Linked DNA regions of Homo sapiens: region 2 is linked to region 1. Evidence: fine-mapped expression QTL. Tissue or cell type: testis. Region 1 holds a variant in brackets; the other region holds the start of a gene. All regions are shown on one strand. Distances are between the middles of the regions.

Region 1 (8,000 bases):
TCGGGAGGCTGAGGCATGAGAATCACTTGAACCCAAGAGGTGGAGGTTGCAGTGAGCTGAGATCACACCACTGCACTGCAACCTGGGCGACAGAGCACAACTCCATCTCAAAAAAAAAAAACAAAAAACAAAAAAAAACACCTTCCTAGTGGAAATGGATTGAGGGCCTGGAGCTTCACCTGGCAAGCCCCCATCCACTCCCAGTAGCCTCGAGGAGCTCTGCAGGAATCCCCTAGCTCTGAGAAGCACAGCTGACAAGCATTGAAGTGAGGTGCTGTTGCTGGTAGACAGGCGCTGCTGTGTTAGGAAGCTGAGAATGCTTTCTGTGGCTAAGCCCTTGGAGCTAGGTCTTTCTTGTTTTTCTAAATGGCAGGCACACTTGTTTTGTTCCAGTTTGCAGAGGAGTCAGCAGGGTGAGTGCTTGGAGTGGGTCTCGTTGCAGCTCCAGACCCTGCCCATTGGGTCATATTCCTTTCAGGATATTTGACCTCTGACCAGCCAGCATCATTAATGCACTGCCCCCTGGCCTGTGAGCAGCACCCCCAGCCTCTGCCCCTCCCACCCTCTCAACCAGGTGGTGGCCAATGCAGTGGCAGCGCTCTCAGAAATTGCCGAGTCTCACCCCAGCAGCAACCTGCTCGATCTGAACCCACAGTCCATCAACAAGCTGCTGACAGCCCTCAATGAGTGCACCGAGTGGGGCCAGATCTTCATCCTGGACTGCCTCGCCAACTATATGCCCAAGGACGACCGCGAGGCCCAGAGGTGAGCGGGCTGCCCGTTGCTTGCCAGCCCAGCTTGAGGACCCTGGTCCTCAGGGGCTCCAACCAGGCACTGGGCCTTGGGCCTTAGTGGGCCCCTTTCTAGTGCTTTGCCCCATAACCCACCCTCAGACACACCTAAAGGGAGGCCTGCCTGCTTCCCACCTCTCCAGAGCCAGGTAGACAGGAGAGTTGCCTTGGGCAGCTATGGGCATACGCATGGCCTGGCCTTGGAGCTGGCAGAAGCCCAGGGCACCTCTTTTGAGTTCAATAGGTGGGTAGCGCCAGAGCCACTGCTCATTGAATTCTCACTGGGTGTCTGGGGCTCTGCCGGGTGCTTTCCACACTTTAGAGTCTTTAATGCAACTTTTATCATCATCCCCCACTTTCCAGATGAGGGAGCTCCAGCTTAGAGAGGTGGAGGGAATAGTGCAGGTCCCCTGGCTGGGGCTCACCTGACTCATGGTCTTAACCAACAAGATACCCTCCAAGTCGGAGGAAGTGAGGAGTTGCCATCTATACAGTATGTACTACATGCCAGTACTGTGCTTGTTCTTTTTTTTTTTTTTTTTGGCAGGGTCTCTGTTCTGCAGGCTGGAGCTGCAGCCCCAACCTGCAGGGCTCAATCAATTCTCCCAGGTAGCTGGGACTACAGACATCTGCATGCCAACATGAGCAGCTAATTTTTATATTTTGTATAGAGACAGGTTTTCTCCATGTTGCCCAGACTGGTCTCAAACTCCTGGGATCAAGCAATCCACCCATCTCAGCCTCACCCAGCCTTGTTCTTTACATGCGTTGTGTCAGTTAAGCCCCTAGCAACCCTGTGAAGTAGGCATCATCATCTTGATTCTATAAATGAAGAAACTGAGGCTCAGAGTGATTTGAACCTGCTAGGGGTTATCAAGCAGCAGAACCAAGATTTAGATCTTTCTCCTACAAAAAACATGTTTGTTTGTTTGTTTGTTTATGACAGGGTCTCGCTCTGTTGCCCAGGCCAGAGTGCAGTGTCACAGTCTCAGCTCACTGCAGCCTCAAACTCCTGGGCTCAAAGCAGTCCTCCTGCGTCAGCCTCCCAAGTAGCTGGGACTACAGGCATGCACCACCATACTCAGCTAATGTGTAAAATTATTTTTAGTAGAGAAGGGTCTCATGATTTTGCCCAGGCTGAACATGCTATTTTTTTTTTTTTCGAGACAGGGTCTCACTCTGTTGCCCAGGCTGGAGTGCAATGGCGCGATCTCGGCTCACTGTAACCTCCACCTCCTGGGTTCAAGCGATTCTCATGTCTCAGCCTCCTGAGTACCTGGGACTACAGGTGCTTACCACCATGCCCAGCTAATTTTTATATTTTTTGGTAGAGACAAAGTTTTACCATGTTGGCCAGGCTTGTCTCAAACTCCTGACCTCAAGTGATCCACCCACCTCGGCCTCCCAAAGTGCTGGGATTACAGGCGTGAACTATCACGCCTGGCCTGGACATGCTATTTTGGTAACTAAAAACAGAATGTTTCCCCTTGTCTTTCCTGTTTGCCCCGTTGGAATGGACGGACCCCAGCATCTGTGAGCGGGTCACCCCCAGGCTCTCCCATGCCAACTCCGCTGTGGTGCTCTCTGCTGTGAAGGTGCTGATGAAGTTCATGGAGATGTTGTCTAAGGACTTGGACTACTACGGCACACTGCTCAAGAAGCTGGCCCCACCCCTGGTCACACTGCTGTCAGCCGAGCCAGAGCTGCAGTATGTGGCCCTGCGCAACATCAATCTCATCGTGCAGAAAAGGTACTGAGGTCACCACACGCACGTCCATGCGTACCCCTCGGGGAGCCTCTTCTGCTGGGAATGGGGGCTCTCAAAGGAAACTGACCTGTCACCATGCAGGAAGTCTCAAATAGCTTAACCCAGAATAGCTTAACCAAAGTGGCAGCTTTGCCCCCCTGAGGGATATTTGGTGGTGTCTGGAGATACTTTGGTTTTCACAGCTGAGGGGGGCATGCTACCGGCTTCTAGTGGGCAGAGGCTAGGAGTGCTGGTCAGCATCCTACAGTGCACAGAATAGCCCCTCACAGTAACTGTCCAGCCCGAAATGTCAGCAGTGCTGAGGTTGAGAAGCCCTGGCTTAACCTAACTAGGAAGCAGGCTATGTAAAGACTAGCTTGGTGATTAAACTAGATATTGTCTTCATAGTCCACGAGCTGTCCTGAAATGGGCTGTCAGATTTTGTGTATCTGTGTACATTTCTTCGGGGGACAGAGTCCGTAGCTCTAGTCAAACTCTCTGAGGTTGGAACCTTGAGGTCTGGGGGAGAGGTACATCGGACTCACTCCAAATGCTGTGCCGCCCACTTCCCTCCCATGAGAATGGCTGAGCAGTGAGCTGCTGCTCCCAGGGCACGTGGTATGGTAGTGGGGGGTAGGCGAGAGCAGAAAAACCATTGAGCAGTGCTGGATCGGAGGGGTTCATGGCATGATCCCCTTCTTCCTCTGAAGTGGCTCTGAGTGGCAGAGCCCTGCAGCTCTGGGGAGGGGGATTGACCTTGAGTTCTCCTCACAGCTTTTGGTCAAATGGCTCAGTCAGCAGTGGGGACTTGACAGTAGCAACCATTGATCATTCGTGGGGACTTGACAGTAGCAACCATTGATCATTCGTATGTTACAGCAGGCCCTGTGGCTGGGAGTGGGGCTACACAGAGAACTGGGGCCTCATTAGTCATTTTCTCTTGGAAGACAGCACATCCTCCTGGTTGTAGCTTCAGTCTGGGTCTTAGTACTCTCCCGGGGGACCCAGAGATATTGGTCGAATTGGGTTATTAGGGAGGTAAATATGGGAAAGCCTTCTGAGTTCCTAAACCAAGGGATGAAACTAGGGCTTCCTGGTTGCAGTGTGGGTCTTTATACGCCAGTGCCCTTGGGTCACGGATTTAATGCGGCGTAGTGACTAGTAGAGCAGATCAGCGTGCAGGATTCCCTGTGCTATATTTAACATAGTAAATCTCTTAAGAATTTGTCCACGTCACTGAGACATGCCCTGCCCTGGTCCTGAGATGTGGCTGGGCAGCTTTTGCCAAGTCCTAATCGCAGAAATATCTTCCTGCTACCCAGCTCGGGGTCTTGCCTCTCCCATGGGGCACGACAAAGGCTCCTTGCTTGGCCAGGACCTCCCCGCAGTGTGCACAGCAGCACAGAGTACCCAGTTTTCTCCTTTCTCTCTGTCCTGTCTTCTCCCTTCCTCACCATCTGTCCTCGTATCTTTTCCTTCCTCCTCTCTGTTCTGGAAGGGCATAGGAGTAGGAGTCAGAGGCAGAGGATTCTCGCCCCACTCTCGTCTTTACTGACATTAGCCATGTGACCTAGTACCAGCCTCTCACCCTCTCTGAAGTTTCCTTGTTCAGGAAAAATGTGGTGGGTGATACTCGCGGAAGGCAGAAGGATGTTGCCTTTGAGGGAGGAACAATGACACATGTGAAAGGGCTCAGCTAGTGACAGCTCCTGCCTAGCGGTGCCTTCTCTGAGGCAGGCATCGATCATGCTGGATGCTTCTCGTCTCACTCTCACAGCAGGCCGATTAGGTCGGTGTCCATGTTGGGGTCCCAAGACCACCCTCATGCTCAGGTTTCACTAGCAGTACTCACAGGACTCAGCATATATTTTTTAAATATATATATTTTTTGAGACAGGGTCTCACTCTGTTGCCGAGGCTC[G/A]TCTTGAACTCCTGGACTCAAGCAATCCTCCTGCCCCAGCCTCCCAAAGTGTTGGGATGACAGGCATGAGCTGCTGTGCCCAGCCAGGACTCAGCATATAGCTATACCCACAGCAAAGATCTATCAGCAGCAGAGCAGGGCTGCCCGGCTGGGTCATAGGGGAGAAGGACACAGGTGGAGTCTGGAGGGTTCCATGAGAGGCTTCCTTGTACCTCCTCCTTCCCATGGGGAGTCATACAGAGCACACTCCTCCCCCAACAAAATGCAGCAACATGTATGTAATGTTTCTGCCCAGGAAAGCCTATTTGAGACTTCGGCACCCAAGTTTGTTATTGGGGGCACCTACACAAATTCCATATTCCCAGTAGGGAAGCATGTGTTCAGCATAAACTGTATTCTTTGTACAAATGGTCTAGGTACAGTTAAATACCTTTATCATTTAGGGAACAGTGAGAACACTTCAAAATCCAAGTTGCCACGTGCCAGGCCTTCTGAGGCTAGCAGTCCCAGACCTGCAGTAGTAACATGTTTCTGTACAGCGTCATTCCCATTTCATGGGTGAGGAAACAGGCCTGAGGTCACAGGCTGGGACTGGGACTGAGATATGTCTGATTCCCAAGCCCGTCCCATGGGGCCTGCTGCCTCTGGAGAGTGAGTGAGCCGTCTCTCACTGCCCTCCGTCTCCCTTCCGGCGACGTGCTCAGGCACACAGGAGCAGTCACAGCCTTGCTCAGGCCGGTTGCTGGGCCCTCTACCCAGGAGCTTGCAGCCATGGCAGTGACTCTGCCTTCACAGACATCAGGCTCCACCTCAGACCCCAGAAATGTCCCAGCAAATGTGGAGGGCATTTTCTCACAGGGCTTAAGCCTTGTTTTTTGCTCTCCGGGCATCCTGCCCCACCACCAGGCCTGAGATCCTGAAGCATGAGATGAAGGTGTTCTTCGTGAAGTACAACGACCCTATCTACGTGAAGCTGGAGAAGCTGGACATCATGATCCGCCTGGCCTCTCAGGCCAACATCGCCCAGGTCAGCTGCGTGTGATGGTCAGGACACGGGCTCAGTGTGGGACCATTCCACCACCACCAGACTGTAGGCTCTGGCCCAGGTGACCAGTCTCACCATTAACGGTTTATCTCATGAAGAGTGTTTAGCATGGGACATGGGGCTTCGTAAGCAAGTAAAAGAACTGATGTTTTTATTACTAAAGAATGTTTCTCCATGTTATCACCTGTCATCCCTTACAACGTGGTGTTGGATATGTTAGCTAAATCAACCCCAAACAAGGTTGTCCAGGCCTTCTTTCCTTTTCAGGCACCTGCCAGCTCTCTCCCTTGGGCCTTCTACCTGGAGCAGGAGGCAGAATCCCATTCTCCTAGGGAGTCTGTGTATATTCACTGCCCAGGAGTGTTCCAGCAGATTGCCCCATCAGGTGCCCCAGCCCCATCTTTTCTGTTTGGGCCACAGGTGTTGGCAGAGCTGAAAGAGTACGCAACAGAAGTGGATGTGGACTTTGTACGGAAGGCTGTGCGTGCTATTGGCCGCTGCGCCATCAAGGTGGAGGTGAGGCTCTGGGACTCTGTCCTTGGCTGGAGAAGGAAAAGGGGGCTGAAACCGGGAAACCAGTCTGATTCAAGCAGAATCTGCCAGCTTGCTTGTGGTCTGGGAAGGCCTGAGGCTCATCACTGGAGCCCCCATGGCAAGCATTGTGCAGATCTGGTGGGGTTCCTTCTCACTCTATAGTATCCTTTAGGCCTTCGAGTTGCTGCCGATCAAATTAACCCATCATAATCATGGTTCTCCTGCAGCATTTGTTAAGATGCTGGGGCAGCCACAAGTTAATGGACTTAGCATTCACTTCACAGAGCTCTGGGGTAAGGGCCCTGCCTGTTGAACACTTCTTGGCAAATATTGTCATCATTCAGCTGCCCACGTGCCTCTGTGTCCCAGCGTCCCAGGGCCACTCTAGACTCCTGTGTCCTGGCATTTTATCCCCGTCCTTTCTCTGTCTGTGGAGATGTTCCTCGACCACTAAGCCAGATTCTCCTTAAATGGGTCCACTGGTGGCTACAGTGTCCTAGGATAGGTGGTCGCCCCCGACCTATCCCCTTGAGGCGTGCTCACCCTGGAGCCTATGATGCCGTCCTGAGAAATCTCCTTCAGAGCAGGCCGTGAGAGCAGTGTGTGGAAGTAAAGGCAGAAGCAGTCAGAGGTTCTGTGAGTGTTTTTGGACATAGGAGCCCCCTTTCTGAAACAAGTAAAAAGAGAGGTGGGGTTGGACTGCAGCGTAGTCACCTTGCCCTCAGGTCCTGACTTAGAGGAGCTCCAAGGACCCTCCTGGCTCTCAGGAACTCTTCCTCTGGCTTCTCCTCAGTCTCATTCCCCATGTCCCCACCATCCTAGGGCCATGATTTGGTACTGGTTCTCTCCTGTTACCTGGGGAGAGGGTTCTCCTGTTTTCCCACTGTGATGAGGAAGGTGTGCCAGAAGTGATTTGCAGCCCTTGGCCGAGGCGTGGACATCAGAGGCTCTACTGGAAATGGGGTGCGGGGACCTCGCCCACACTCTTCTCTTCCCATGCAGCAATCTGCGGAGCGCTGTGTGAGCACGCTGCTCGACCTCATCCAGACCAAGGTCAACTATGTGGTCCAGGAGGCCATCGTGGTCATCAAGGACATCTTCCGCAAGTACCCCAACAAGTGCGTGCCCGCCCTCCTAGGGAGAGGGCATCTAGCTCTGCCTGGGGACAGGGATGGCGGGGCAGAAAAGGAAGGAGGAATCTCCTCTTCCTTACTTCTTGGCCACAAGCGTCATTCTCAAAAGAAACCCTTTGTTTTTTATTTCGTCCACACTGCCCCTCCTCTACTCCCCAGGCCAAAATAAGGGCTAACGTGTGACAGATGAAACTCAGATCCCCAGGCCAGGTGTGGTGGCTCTTGCCTGTAATCCCAGCACTTTGGGAGGCCGAGGCGGGTGGATTGCCTGAGATCAGGAGTTCAAGACTAGTCTAGCCAACATAGTGAAACCATGTTTCTACTAAAAATACAAAAAAATTAGCTGGATGTGGTGGCATGTCCCTGTAATCCCAGCTACTTGGGAGGCTGAGGCAGGGGCATTGCTTGAACCAGGGAGGTGGAGGTTGCAGTGAGGTGAGATCACACCACTGCACACCAGCCTGGGCAACAGAGTGAAACTCCATCTCAAAAAAAAAAACAAAACTCAGATCCCCTTTACCTGCCACCTTGGGGTCTTAGGAGGCAGGTCCCCTTCCCTCCTGGCCCCTGTCTGGCTTCCCTGGGTTTCCCGTTCTCCTTGAGGGCTCCCATACCAACTGTGCCCTGGTCTCCCAGGTATGAGAGTGTGATTGCCACACTGTGTGAGAATCTGGACTCCCTGGATGAGCCTGAGGCCCGGGCTGCCATGATCTGGATTGTGGGCGAGTACGCGGAACGGATCGACAACGCAGATGAGCTGCTGGAGAGCTTCCTCGAGGGCTTCCATGACGAGAGCACACAGGTGAGCCAGCGAGCTGGCCAGGGTGTG
Region 2 (8,000 bases), 86 kb after region 1:
CTTTGCTGAATCCATCTCTTCACGTTGGCTTATCTGCCTACCTCTCTGTACTTTACTGGACTACTTTCTTTCCTTTGTACACACTCTTAACTCAAAACCCTGAATCACCAAGAGGAACAAATCAACTGCCCAAAGGCTAACCTATAATGAAAAAAATAATCTGTTCATGACAATCTTAAAGGCATTTTCAATAGCACTACAAGTCATACTCTCTCTGACATTAAAACTAAATGCAGATCATTTTTTCCATGTGGCATCTACAAAATAAACACAGCAATGAATCATTTAACATCAAATATTTTAACCCACGTTTTGTTGAGGTCTTTGCTTGAGAAGTGATTGTAAATCACTGTCATGTAAGTTCAACGTTTGCAAGACGACTTTTACGCAAGAGCAGTTATGTAAAACATCAAACTGGCAAAGCTGATATGGAACAACCAATGACCTCTTATCAGTGAGAAACCACAGGATTCGGCCCTATACTAACTGGTGGGCTATAGAAGGTAGCAAATTTGTTTCATGAACTTACATTTATCTTCCTAGAGCACACAAACATCACAGGCCCTCAAGCAAGCTATTAGGTTGATGCAAACGTAATTACTTTTGCACCAACCTAATACAATTACAAACTGGTCAGATTATTCAGCAACCGTGTTCGTTTTTAACCCCCAAAAGTGAGCCACTGACTTCACTAAAAATCACTTCACTGTGATTGAGCGCTGGGGGTTCTAGATTGCTGCGAGTCTGCATTCCAATTCTTTGTTGCACTGGATATATATGCTTTACGTACTTTTCTACATGAGATAACATACGAGGAGAGAAAACTTCTATTATTAACCCAAGGCAACGGTTTAACACTTTAGAGCAGTCACTATGGAAGCTGCTTCACACTACCTGAGTTGAGCTTCACAGTACCTGAGCTGAAGTCAGCATAGGACAAATTTGTGGAATGCTTATGCTGGAAGGTCAGAAGGGCTCAAAAGCTTAAGAGGTCTAGCCTAACTTCTGTATTTTACAGGAAAGGAAACTAAGGACCAGATTACTTATGTGACTCTCTGAAGGCCCCCCCAGCCAGGCCTAATGTGTTTACTTTGTGTCAACAGAAACCACAACTGTAATTCTAATACAGTACAGCACATGGTAGTTACTGGTGAACAAGGTTTGAACAAAGTTGACTGAAAAAAGGCACGTCCAGCCACGCAAAAATGTCAACGCACACGTTTTGCCTTTTCAGGCTTTTGCAGAGCAGAAGAGGGTGGATAGGGCACCTAGGAAACCACTTCCCACCGGGAGGTTAGCTGTGGTATTTCAGTCCTCTCTTCTACCGGCACTCTTTGGTATCCACTCTTTGGTATCCCGGCACGAACAGCCAACACTTACCTGTTTATTGACCACAGATGGGGAGAATTCTTAAACTGTCCTTAAGTTGCTGGATTCTGGACTCCAAAAACTCTGGAGTGCCCAGAACTTTTCCTGTCTTCCTTCTCATCTTCTCCCACTGTCTCTAAGGCCTGGAACCAGGTGGCCTGAGAATACCCCCGGGGCAAAAATGCTCCACCCTGCCAATTTTCGCGGGTTAGTGTACCCACAGATTGCGAACTGCAGGTGATGGCTAGGCGACACTCTTAAACGCTCCTTCCATCAAGGACCACTCTACTCCCATTTTGGAGTTCCCAACCGGGGCTTGCTTGCAAGTGCCTTTAAGATTGCTTCTACTGGCCTTTTTTCCCCTCTCCTCTGTCGACCTACGAAATCAACAGGCCTGCCGGCCTAACGCAGGCGAATAAACGTGCGAGGCCACTGCTGAAACATAATTCAAATGAAGGCTCGGCCTTTTGTTCCTCCTAGGTCAGAGAGACCAGAAATATCTTTCTGGTAGCGTTTCTCGTCTCTCGACCCAGGCTGGCCTTATTATACAACGGATGTCCCTCGGCGTTTGCAGAAAAAGGGCCCTGGGAAGCCACTTAATTGGTTTTGGGGGAGGGGAGGACGTGGATTAATAACGATAAAAATGGAGAAGCCCAAGAAAGCGGCAAACTGGGGGCCCTGGAGGAGGGAAGCACATTCTGTCTAAAGCCCAGGCGAGCAGAAGTTCGGCTTGGGGCTGGAAGCCACAGAGGGGGCAGCTCGGCAGCGCCAGACGCCCCAGCCGACTGGGTCTTAAGGATGACGGGGCTCCCGCTCATAGGCCGGCACCCCTCGGCCCACAAATCCACGGTATCTTTATTTGCTTTTTCCCCTGGTTTCTCAGGAAACCCTGAAAACGGGGAGGGAGGCCTCACAGGGACAGCAGCCTGCGGGCCCCCCGGCGGTTTCATAGTGACCGGCTTGAGGCCTGGCCAAATCCTCCCCTTCACGCAGGGCCTCGAAGGCCGCAGGCCCCGCCCACGTGGCGGGAGGCCCGGAGCTCAGGGCGCGAGGACCGCCACACAATGGAGGCCAAGGCGGGCCCCGCGCGCCCCCGCCGCAGCAAGCCCCCCGCGCGCCACGGGCGCCGGAAGATTCCAGAACCGGCCCGCCCGGTTGGGGGAGGGGAGAGGAATGCGGATCCCCGAGCTCGTCGGGCCGCGGCGGGTGCCTCAACCCCCTCTCGGCAACTCCACTCAGTCTTCCCAGCCAAGCCCAGAGACGAACGACCCCCAGTTTGGGCGTTCCGGCTACCGCCGGCGCGACCGCAGTTCCACCATACTCACCCGTGGACGCCATTTTCTCTCCTTCCTCCTCGTTCTCTCAACGTCCGTCTCCCTCTCGCTTTCCCTCTAGGCGCCGCACTGCGCAGGCGCAAATCTCGCAACCCCGGGCGCGACCATCGGGCCAGGCCACGGGGGTGGGGTCAGGAGGGATGAACCACCGCTTACTCGTTCTTCGCGTCCGCAACTCTTGTCCCAGTCCTCTCTAAAGAGCGCCCGACGTGACACTCGGGCCAAAATAGCATCTAAGGGGCCAGAGCGGGGGTGAGCGGGTCTCAGCGTGAAACCGGAGAGGCTCTCAGCACGAGACTAGGCTGTTTGGAATGGTTCCGTCCGCTGGCTCTAGGGACGGTCGCTGAAGAGTCGGCCCTGCAGGGAGACGGAGATCGGCGGGAGGGCTGGGGGAAGGGACCCGGACTAGAACAACTGCTGACTAATCCGCGGGCCGCGGGGAATGGGTGGCGCGCCAGCCGGTCGGCAGGGGTCACGCGGCCGGGTGTGCGCGGAATGGATTCAGGGTTCTCGGGTCGCGCCCGGGAGCTAGAGTCCTGACTCCCAGCCGGGGTCCCCGACCGGCCTTTCGGGGTTGCCGGGCGCGCTCTGCAGTGAGTACCCGGGACGCGTGGCCCGGGCCAGCGGGGAAGGGTCCCCAAGGCCGGTCGGCTGGGTGGGAGGCCTCGAACGCCGTGCCTGGCCCCGAGACCCTATCCCCGGTAACGGTCGAGGTGGAGCAGGCCCTTTAATCATCCCTCATCCGATATCCTTGTTTCTACAGAAGGGGAAACTGAGGCCCAAGGAAATTGAGTATCTCTGCAAAGTCACCAGCTGAGTTCGAACCAGACAGATCCTGGGACCCCCTACTCTATCCGCCACCGGAAGAATCTCCGTCCTTGTCTTTCCATTCTGCCCTCCCGGCTTCCCAGTAAGGTAGGCAGGGCCTGGTGGTGCACTGCCCCGTTTCATAGATTGAAGAAAGTGAGGTCCAGGGGGCTCAAGTCCCAGTTCCGAGTGTCCACGGGTAAGCCCTTCACCCTTGCTAAGGTGCCCAGAGCTGGGGAATGGTTGTGAGGTGTCGATGCAGGAGGAGGTTTACGGTGGGTGCCTTGGCCCCAAACCCTGCCTCCAGGCAAGGCTGACCCTGCCCACCTTCCTGGACCTCTAGCCCCAGCCCCCTAGGTGGATGCCCGGGTCCGCGAAGGGCAGGGTTCACCTTCAAATCCCTCGGCAGGACCAGGAGCCAAGCTAGTGTCCTTTTTTCAGTGAACATATATAAAGCACTGGCTGTGTGCTGTGAATACCCTGGGGAATGTGGGGTTGGATCAGAGGAGCCATGAGCTCAGACCACCTGCCTAGGGAGACAGACTGGCCAAGCTGTGCTCCTAAGGATAAGATCCATGATGTTAGGGGGCCAGAGGAGGGGAAGGGATATTTGAGCTGGGCTTCCAAGGGTGAAATAGGAGTTTGCCTGCTGGCAAAATGGAGGGAAGGACAATGCAGGCAGAGGAGCTTTCCACATTTTTCCTGCAGGAAACTGGTAGATGTGGAGAAGGCGCTTGGCAGGGGAGCAAATTAGGCAGCCTTCTTGTCTCTCTGGGATCCTGCTTCCTGCCCTGAATCAGCTCAGTGGGAGTCCTGGGACCGAGAGGCCTGACCAGGGGTGAAGACCTACAGGCCCTGGAGGACAGGCTGGATGCAAGAGAACAGCACGGGGGAGAAGGCCTTGCTTTGGTGGGCAGGGAAAGGCCATGTTTGAGGGCCAAAGCTGGGACCAGCTAGGCTGGAGCAGCCACCTCCATATTGAGGCCTTCTCGATGGGCCAGTTGGTGGCTACAGACGCCTGCCATGATTAGTGCGGATTGCTATGGTTTATGGAGGAAGAGTTGTGGGCCAGGGCCTGCCTTAGCCTATTCCTTTTTATTTCATCATACTCTGAGGAAAAGAATTTATGAATTTCCATTTTACAGATGAGAAAGGAGAGGCTCATCTGTAAAATGAGGCTCATCTGTAAAAAGATGAGGTTGGAAACTTGCCTCAGGACACAGAGCAGAAAGAGGTGGAGCGCATACTGTACCCTTCCTGTGGAAAGGGGAGCCAGGGCCAGAGGGGCTGTGCCAGTAAGGAAGCAGGAGGAGGCTTACAGTGGATGGGTTCACCCTCAAAGGGGATGTCTCAGTCGCAGGTCTCTGAGTATGGCTCAAGATGTGGGACTTCTGCCCATCTGCCCTACCCCTTACCCTGTCGGCTTGCCCATTGTCTGGCCCCACCCCAGGGTCAAGGGCAACTGAAACCATCTGGAGCATTAAGGCTGGGAACAGGGGAGGGGAGGAAGGAGGGAGGTAGTAGTCTGAGGGAAGGGGGAGGACAGAAGAGGGCTAGAGATGGCCCTGAATTCGCCCTGGGGGGTGAGGGCCTGAACCCCTCTTTTTGGGAGTTCAGGGCCTATCAGGACTCAGAAGTCTCTATGCCTGTCCCCTGCCAGTCCTTAAACAGAGGTGAGTGGAATGGTAAGATGGCTTATGAGCGCATGGGTTAGGGTCTGAGCTCCACTAAGGCCAAGCTGCTGGGCCTGCGTCTCCAGCCTGTTTCCACCTCTGTAAAATAGGGCTGTTGATAAGGTGCTTGAGAGGGTATTGGTGAGATAAAAGCTCCAGTAATAACTTGTTATTGTTTTCTTTTATCCCCAGCACACAGCCCCAGGACCACCCTTGACCGTCCTCAACCAAGCGATGCATGCCAGGGGCCCCCATGGCCAACTGTCCCCAGCACTGCCTCTGGCCTCCTCAGTCCTGATGCTGCTGATGAGCACCCTGTGGCTGGTGGGGGCCGGCCCCGGCCTGGTCCTGGCCCCGGAGCTGTTGCTGGACCCCTGGCAGGGTGAGGGCCAGCCACGTGGACCTTGGAGGAAGCAGGAGACTTGCTGTAGGGCCTGGGCCCACTTGGCAGGAGCAGCACAAGGCCTCCAGGGGTCAAACAGGGATGGGGCCCAGTGTCCCGGGAAAGCATGGCCTTAGACAGGAGCATGCCCAGCACATCCACAGCCAAGAAGGGAGGCAGAGGACTCCCTAGGGTGGGCTGGAACCTATGGGTAGGAGTGCTTTTCTCATGGTTTCCCTTTCTAGCAGCTTTTCCTTGAAATAAGAACTAAGGCCAGGTGGCTGACGCCTGTAATCCCAGCACTTTGGGAAGCTGAGGCAGGTGGATCACTTGAGGTCAGGAGTTCGAGACCAGCCTGGCCAACATGGTTAAACCCTGTCTCTACTAAAAATACAAAAATTGGCCGGGCGCAGTGGCTCACTCCTGTAATCCCAGCACTTTGGGAGGCCGAGGCGGGCGGATCACGAGGTCAGGAGATTGAGACCATCCTGGCTAACACGGTGAAACCCCGTCTCTACTAAAAATACAAAAAGATTAGCTGGGCGTAGTGGCGGGTGCCTGTAGTCCCAGCTACTCGAGAGGCTGAGGCAGGAGAATGGCGCGAACCTGGGAGGCGGAGCTTGCAGTGAGCCAAGATCGCGCCACTGCACTCCAGCCTGGGTGACAGAGTGAGACTCCATCTCAAAAAACAAAACAAAACAAAACAAAAAAACAGCTAAGACTTTCAACTAAGCATCAGGATGGGAGGAGGAGGTGTTGGGGTTTTGAGGAGTGACCTCAGCTGAGCACCTGTTTCCCAATAATAACTCCTCCAATTTGTATTTGAGGACCCCCAATGATGCTCAGAGAGGTTAAGTGATTTGACCAGGGTCACACAGCTTGAGGGAATGGGGTAGCTCCAGGATTGAAGCAGGCCATTTCATGCTCTCAGCCAGGTATGATTTAGTAAATACAGAAGCAGAGTACCTTCATGGTGTCTGGGACATAGTGAGTGCTCTGTAGCGGGTTGTCAGTGAAAAGACTGAGTGGCACGTCCAGTGTATTCTGTTTAATACCACAGAGGCGTAGCCACAGTGTTTGGAAGTCCTTGGTCCCTTCCACCAATGATTAAGTGCTGGCTGTGGGAAGACTGGCTCCTGGGGAGGGGAGGTGGGCTCAGCAGGTGGCCCTGGTGTAGCGTAACCTTCAACCTGGCACACCTGGGACAGCCTTGGATGTTGGGGCCACTAACCTGGCACATAAGCCCCTTCTCTCTCCCAGTGCACCGGCTGCTGACCCATGCCCTGGGCCACACGGCCCTGCCAGGCCTGCTCCTGAGCCTGCTGCTCCTGCCCACTGTGGGCTGGCAGCAGGAGTGCCACCTGGGCACGCTGAGATTCCTGCATGCCTCAGCCCTGCTCGCCCTGGCTTCTGGGCTGCTGGCAGTGCTGCTGGCAGGCCTTGGGCTGTCCAGTGCAGCCGGCAGCTGTGGATACATGCCTGTCCACCTGGCCATGCTGGCTGGGGAGGGACACCGCCCTAGACGGCCCCGTGGGGCACTGCCACCGTGGCTGTCGCCGTGGCTGCTGCTTGCCCTGACCCCACTGCTCAGCTCTGAGCCACCCTTCCTGCAGCTCCTTTGCGGCCTCCTTGCCGGCCTGGCCTGTATCCTTTGCCTGAGCCCAGGGCCCGTGGGGATGTGTGGGTTCTGTGGGTGGGTGCCTGGGAAGGAAGTGGCACAAAGGGGTGAAGGCCCAAGCAATACCAAGGAGCCGTGCACACACATTCCAGGAGCTTCTCTGAGTCTTCCTCTGGGACATGCTCTGGGCTGGGACCTGGGGTCTTATGGCCTGGTGGAGGTGCCAATTACAATGTAAAGGGCTACGTGGGCTCCCTGTAATATCAATGCCATTCTTCGCAGAAATAGAAACAATAACCCTAAAATTTATATGGAACCACAAAAGGCCCAGAATAGCCAAACCACCCTGAGCAAAAATTAAAAATTAAAAAAATTAAAAGCCTGACCGGGCGCAGTGGCTCACGCCTGTAACCCCAGCACTTTGGGAGGCCAGGCGGGCAGATCACTTGAGGTCTGGAGTTCAAGACCAGCCTGGCCAACATGGTGAAACCCCATCTGTACTAAAAATAAAAAAATTAGGCCAGGCGCGATGGCTCATGCCTGTAATCCCAACACTTTGGGAGGCCAAGGTGGGCGGATCACGAGGTCAGGAGTTCGAGACTAGCCTGGCCAACATGGTAAAACCCCATCTCTACTAAAAATACAAAAATTAGCTGGGCGTGGTGGCGTGCACCTGTAATCCCAGCTACTTAGGAGACTGAGGCAGGAGAATCACTTGAACCTGTGAGGCAGAGGCTGCAATGAGCCGAGAACATGCCACTGCACTCCAGCCTGGGCGACAGGGCAAGACCCCGGTCTCAAACCCCAAAAAACAAAAA

Direction of the effects. Positions count from the first base shown, and alleles are read on the strand shown. Sizes are in standard deviations (SD) of each study's normalised expression.
With allele A in place of G in region 1, the expression in testis of the gene that starts at base 3,062 in region 2 is lower (moderate effect, 0.68 SD a copy in GTEx).

The links. PIP is the estimated chance that this variant, and not a neighbour inherited with it, causes the effect.
Region 2: it holds the start of RHBDD3, and the variant in region 1 is fine-mapped to the expression of RHBDD3 in testis (GTEx, PIP above 0.99).

Annotation. Positions count from the first base shown.
Region 1 is chr22:29,349,191-29,357,190 of GRCh38, reverse strand. AP1B1 (adaptor related protein complex 1 subunit beta 1) reads left to right here. Exons shown (of 23, transcript NM_001127.4): 6 at 575-765; 7 at 2,320-2,541; 8 at 5,366-5,486; 9 at 5,925-6,020; 10 at 7,041-7,156; 11 at 7,808-7,973. Among named protein-coding and RNA genes, the nearest start is that of SNORD125, 20 kb to the right of the region's middle. The variant G/A (reference allele first, on the strand shown) is at 4,460.
Region 2 is chr22:29,263,043-29,271,042 of GRCh38, reverse strand. RHBDD3 (rhomboid domain containing 3) reads left to right here and starts at 3,062. Exons shown (of 7, transcript NM_012265.3): 1 at 3,062-3,295; 2 at 3,466-3,617; 3 at 5,375-5,564; 4 at 6,825-7,208. The coding sequence starts at 5,417. EWSR1 (EWS RNA binding protein 1) reads right to left here and starts at 2,775. Exons shown (of 17, transcript NM_005243.4): 1 at 2,694-2,775. The coding sequence starts at 2,706. RefSeq lists enhancers at 1,178-1,227, 2,690-2,749, 2,860-2,919, 2,312-3,183 and a silencer at 2,430-2,519.